Linked DNA regions of Homo sapiens: region 1 is linked to region 2. The links come from fine-mapping of genetic effects on plasma protein levels. Region 2 holds a variant in brackets. A gene starts in the other region. All regions are shown on their forward strands. Region 1 holds the start of FLRT2 (fibronectin leucine rich transmembrane protein 2). Region 2 overlaps LRP1 (LDL receptor related protein 1).

What was found. PIP is the chance, under the fine-mapping model, that this variant and not a neighbour inherited with it causes the effect. The UK Biobank Pharma Proteomics Project read protein levels with antibody pairs (Olink). The fine-mapping took linkage between variants from a reference panel, not from the people measured, so its PIPs are less certain.
Region 1: it holds the start of FLRT2, and the variant in region 2 is fine-mapped to the plasma level of the FLRT2 protein (UK Biobank, PIP 0.93).

What each region holds. Positions count from the first base shown.
Region 1 is chr14:85,528,787-85,531,685 of GRCh38, forward strand. FLRT2 (fibronectin leucine rich transmembrane protein 2) reads left to right here and starts at 1,358. Exons shown (of 2, transcript NM_013231.6): 1 at 1,358-1,748. FLRT2-AS1 (FLRT2 antisense RNA 1) reads right to left here and starts at 2,873. Exons shown (of 2, transcript NR_184170.1): 1 at 1-2,873.
Region 2 is chr12:57,182,951-57,185,849 of GRCh38, forward strand. It overlaps LRP1 (LDL receptor related protein 1), which reads left to right. Exons shown (of 89, transcript NM_002332.3): 35 at 429-560; 36 at 825-959; 37 at 1,135-1,264; 38 at 1,376-1,502; 39 at 1,889-2,040; 40 at 2,131-2,255; 41 at 2,581-2,899. Among named protein-coding and RNA genes, the nearest start is that of MIR1228, 10 kb to the right of the region's middle. RefSeq lists a silencer at 112-161. The variant C/T (reference allele first, on the strand shown) is at 1,182.

The DNA.
Region 1 (2,899 bases), not on the chromosome of region 2:
ACAGCCTCTTCTGGGGCTGGCAAGGCTCAGAGAGGCATTTGAAATGGCTATTATTGACACCCATAGACTTGGGTATGTTTCAGAGAGAAACTATAACATCTATCTCATGGGAAAACACACTTTCTCTGTTTTTAAATAACTCCGTTTCAGCAAGATCCATGTGTGTAGCCTCTGAATACTCTATAAAGGCTCCGTATTTCTTTCTTTCTTTCCTTAGTCCGGAATGGAGACAGAAGAAAGATTCGGTTGAAGATGTCCCTGTGTGGATCTCAGTTTGCGCTCTGAGCGACGTCCTGGCTCATTTGGGTGTGACGGTGAGAGCAGAGGCGCTCTGCTGACAGTTTTTTCTTGTCTAAGCTTCCATTCCGCATCCACAATATGACTCGCCTTCCACTCCAGTTAACTTCTTGGAAGTCCAGAGCACTTAGTCAAAGCTGTTTACAAAATGCAAAGCATCTGGGCGGCCAAGGCAGAGGCTCCTGTGTTCTCTATGTAACCGCCTCCAAAAAAGCTGGGAAATTTCGCGGATCAAAATGTAGGCGCTTAAAGCTGACCCTCTGCTGTCAATGTTGGGACTTAGATACATTTTTTGCATCGTCATTCTTGTGTGTGTTTCCCGTTTATTCCATTCTAAGGCTCAGGCTCGCGCTGTTTCTCTCGCGCGCGCTGTCCCCTCTCTCCATTTCCCATTCACACATCAAACTCCGTCCTCCGCACCCCTATCTTCCCGTGTCTTCTTAGTTATGTGAATGTGTGTCATTAGGCTTACTCGGACACTGGATGGGTGAGTGGGAGGCAGCTTTTCTTGCGGTTTCATTTACACTTGGCATGGGTGGGTGGGTGCCCTCCACAATTCGTCTCGCACACGGAACACAGTTAAAATCTGTAGCTAGAACGAGTGAAAAGTTCCGAATCTTTAAAGCGCAGCTAGGACAGGAAATAATACAGGGTTGGGGGATGTGGACGGGGGCGGAGAGCAGAGAAGTAAAGGAATAAAACCAACTTCGCTGGCAACTTCAATAAATCCGGTAACTGGAGGCAAAAAATAGACTCCGAGGGCTGGGTCTGGTCCGGATGAAACGCTAGGGCTCCTTCCCTTCCTTGAATCTTGGGCGCTGGAAGCCAGCCACGGGCGTCTTGCCACGCGAGTGCCCCTAGACAGCAACACACCCACTGGAAACGCACGTGAACAAAGCTCTCGCCCCCGGGAGCCGCTGCCTGCGGTTTCCTAGTCGATCCCAGCTTCTCTAGGGAGTGTCAGGCGCACACAGGGTTAAGTTAGTTCCCTCCCTGGTAGGAGGGAGAGGAGGAGGAGGGGAAAAGCAGCATACTGTCTCAGGCTGGGTACCTTGTAGTTAGTTGTACGTTCGAAACCTGTCGCCGTCACTTGCGCGTTTGGCATTATCCATTGTCACCGCGGAGGAACGAGCGCTCGAGATATCATCAGTGCCCGCAAATCTCCGCGCCAAGGCGCTGAGCTACTCCTTTCCGAGGTGCGCCTCTGGTCCTCCGTCCCTGGTGCCCAGCAGCGGCGAGGCGGCATCTCCGCTCCCGCCGCCGTGTCCACCGAGCCCTGGGATCAGGGTGGCAGTTCTCAACGATGGGCAGGAGGGACCTCGGCGGCGACCCCTAAAACAATACCATGCCCCGGGATCCCCGCTGCTGCCGCGCCAGCGTCTTCCCTTTCCACCTCCCTGACCCTGTCGGATTCGGATGAGCCCATTGCAAGGAGAAGACGCAGCCGTCAGGTAAAAGGGGCTGCGTTGCCAGGTGAAGTTTCCAGTAACCGGCCGAGCTGCTGCTACGCTGGCACCACGCTGTCTCTTCGGGGGATTTTTTTTTTTTGAAAGAGCTGGGGGTGGTCATCTTAAGTGGGGTGCTCTAGGCTTTGTCTTTCACCTGGAGAGAAAATAGGCAGCTTAGCTCTCTCTCGACTTTGGGGACATCTGTCTGCTGGTCGAATCCACCTCCTCTACGGAGCATCATGACTGAGTTCTGGGTCAAAACGCAAATTTTCTTGCCTGGTAGATGCATCGATGCTAAATTGGGGTTCTCAGTGCCCCTAACCTTGTCAGAGTTCAGTCTCCTACTTCCCTAGATTGAATCTCTTAACTTTCACCAGTAACAACCCTCTCCCCTCCACAAGCTGTTGTTAATGTCACCAGCGTTATTATCAGGCTGTTGTATCTAAAGACACCAACCTACTACCTGCCCGTAATCTGGGATCTATTAGCAGTTAAACAGATGCGGTGGATACTAATTCCTTTTCCTTCCAGTTGGTGGGGGCGGGTGGGGCTTTTTCCAAAACCAAGTCCCTTCCAGCCCTGCTTGTCCTCTTCGGGCTGGCGGGCACTGAGCTGGGGCCATCACGCCTTTCTAGAGCGCCTGCGGAGGTGGCGAAGGCTTGGAGAGCATACGAGGCGGAATCCGGATCGAGTGAGTTCCTTGAGCCGCTTGCGTGGGACGCAGGGAGAGGGCGAATAACGCCCTCAGGCGCTGAATGCAGGGGCAAGGAGCCAGCGAGGGTGGCTGGAGCAGGCCTTGCCAGCTGTTACCAAGTCTCTCCACAGGCTTGGGGGCTTGGGGCCTCCTGGAAAGATCCCTCCGCCGCGCTGACCAGTACGGGGCTCGCTCCCGCACTTTGAAGGCTGCCGCGGTCTTTCGTCATTTATAATCAAGCCCAAGATCAAGGTTGCAAGCTGAGGTCGGGGTACTGACAACGGGAATGAAGCCATAGGGGAAGAGGATAACTGGGACGGGCTGGACCCATACTTGATACCCGGGAAACTCCTAGAGCGTGTGGTGCTCCTGCCAGCGGCAGTTACTGGTGGAGCTGAGGCCACCGCTACTGTCGTCGTTGGCGCTTTGCTTCTGGAACCTCCCAGCAAGATGGCACTCA
Region 2 (2,899 bases):
CAGAGGGAGGACAAAGAGGAAACTAGGATCAGGCTGAGCACCAAACTGGAAGTCTAGATTTTGGAGTCACCTAGTCCTGATTGTCTGGTCTGAACTCCCAGACTTTCCCTAAGGAACTTGCAGGGGTGCAGGGTTGGGTTGTGCTGGGTGGAGGCCGGCAGAGCACAGGGTGAGAAATCCGAGTCTCTGCTGCCCTCTCATGGTGGCTAGGGGTCCTGCAGGTGGTTCCCCAGAGCTACCAGCCAGGTGCGCTTCCTCCCGGCCCATGCTCTGGCCTCAGGCTAGGGTGTGTGTGCTGGGTGGAGGATAGGGATGATGGTGGGGGGGGATGATATCAAAGGAGAAGCAGAGAACAGTTGGAGGGTGACAGGAACCAAGTTTAAGGGAGTGTTGGCGATACCCATGCCTTAAGTTTCCTTGTCTTTCAGGCGTAGGTTCCTTTCTCCTGTACTCTGTGCATGAGGGAATCAGGGGAATTCCCCTGGATCCCAATGACAAGTCAGATGCCCTGGTCCCAGTGTCCGGGACCTCGCTGGCTGTCGGCATCGACTTCCACGCTGGTGAGCCATTTGGTGGCAGAGGGAGTTGGGCGTGGCGTAGGAGCTTTAGGGGTGGTGTGGTGTGCCCTGAGGGTCCAGTGAGAGGCTGCCTGAATTGGCCTGAGGTGGGGCACTTGCTACAGCTGCCACCCTGACTCCACCTCCCCTTCAAGCACCTGGCCCCTCCGGCACTCTCTCACCTCTGTCTTGAGCCTTGTGAGATTTTGACCCCTCACCTTACCCCTGCCTTATTGGGCATCCCCATGTCACCTCCTCCACCTCCAGAAAATGACACCATCTACTGGGTGGACATGGGCCTGAGCACGATCAGCCGGGCCAAGCGGGACCAGACGTGGCGTGAAGACGTGGTGACCAATGGCATTGGCCGTGTGGAGGGCATTGCAGTGGACTGGATCGCAGGTGAGCAGTGGGCAGGTTTGTGGGGCTTGGGGTGTGGCAGAGGACTGGGGGACGAAGTGAGAGGAGGAGTTGGCGGGAGCAGGAAGAGGAGCTGTAGGGGTGCCTGGGAGCTTGGAGACACCAGGTCCACCTGTCCTCACCTAACCTCCCTGAGCCCCACCAACTCCCTCCTTAGGCAACATCTACTGGACAGACCAGGGCTTTGATGTCATCGAGGTCGCC[C/T]GGCTCAATGGCTCCTTCCGCTACGTGGTGATCTCCCAGGGTCTAGACAAGCCCCGGGCCATCACCGTCCACCCGGAGAAAGGGTGAGGAGCTGGAAAGACTGGCCTTGTCATTCTGCCCATGGCCCATGCTGATGAGGCCCTGTCTCCTCCAGGGTCTGAGGACTGACCCCCACTTCCACCCCCACCCTACAGGTACTTGTTCTGGACTGAGTGGGGTCAGTATCCGCGTATTGAGCGGTCTCGGCTAGATGGCACGGAGCGTGTGGTGCTGGTCAACGTCAGCATCAGCTGGCCCAACGGCATCTCAGTGGACTACCAGGTTCGCACGCCAACTTGGCCTTGGATCCGATGGTAGACCCCTGACCCAGGCTCCTGTTCCCTGTGATGAGCCCATTCTGGGAGGACTTGGAGCCCAGGGGAAGTCACAGGGTCTCCCAGCCCAGCCCTCCACCCAGAGTAGGACTCCTGCTACCACAGAGATGATGGGCAGGGGTCGCTCAGAAGTGGGGAGTGGGGGAGTGGAGAGATGCCTGGAGGTCACCTTATCAGCAGGGCAGTGGGCAGGAGTGTATGCAGGAGGCAGGAGTGAGTTAGGGGAGGCTGAACTGAGGGCCTCACTCTGGCCCAGGCACTCCCTGCTGCCCCAGACATGGGGCTGGCAGCGAGCTCAGCCCTGGAGGTGAGGTGGGTGCCTCTGGCCTGTAGGATGGGAAGCTGTACTGGTGCGATGCACGGACAGACAAGATTGAACGGATCGACCTGGAGACAGGTGAGAACCGCGAGGTGGTTCTGTCCAGCAACAACATGGACATGTTTTCAGTGTCTGTGTTTGAGGATTTCATCTACTGGAGTGACAGGTGAGGGCTTCTGTCCTGGCCTCCTCAGCTGATCTCTTCCTTCCCTCCTGCCTCCACTGATGCCCTGCTTGTGCCCTGTCCTTCCCTCAGGACTCATGCCAACGGCTCTATCAAGCGCGGGAGCAAAGACAATGCCACAGACTCCGTGCCCCTGCGAACCGGCATCGGCGTCCAGCTTAAAGACATCAAAGTCTTCAACCGGGACCGGCAGAAAGGTGAGGCTGGGGCTCTGGGCTGGGGTGGAGAGGTGAGGGGGACTCTGGCCTGGGAGAGTGCTCCCCAGGGAACCCAGTGTGAGAGGGCTGGGAGACAAGTTAGACCCATGGGGCAACTTCCGATGGCCCGAGAGACCCAGGGATGGGGAGGAAAGGCTGAGGTGCTCTGGGACAGATCTTGGCATTGGACTCTGGGCCCTGGAGGGTCATTCAAGCTGGGAATACCGAGGCAGAGGGCAGAGCTTTCGCCAAAGCCTGGATGACAAAGGCACCAGTGAGCCTTTCCCAAGGCAGGCCCTGCCCTCTGTACCCTCCCCTCCCCCAGGCACCAACGTGTGCGCGGTGGCCAATGGCGGGTGCCAGCAGCTGTGCCTGTACCGGGGCCGTGGGCAGCGGGCCTGCGCCTGTGCCCACGGGATGCTGGCTGAAGACGGAGCATCGTGCCGCGAGTATGCCGGCTACCTGCTCTACTCAGAGCGCACCATTCTCAAGAGTATCCACCTGTCGGATGAGCGCAACCTCAATGCGCCCGTGCAGCCCTTCGAGGACCCTGAGCACATGAAGAACGTCATCGCCCTGGCCTTTGACTACCGGGCAGGCACCTCTCCGGGCACCCCCAATCGCATCTTCTTCAGCGACATCCA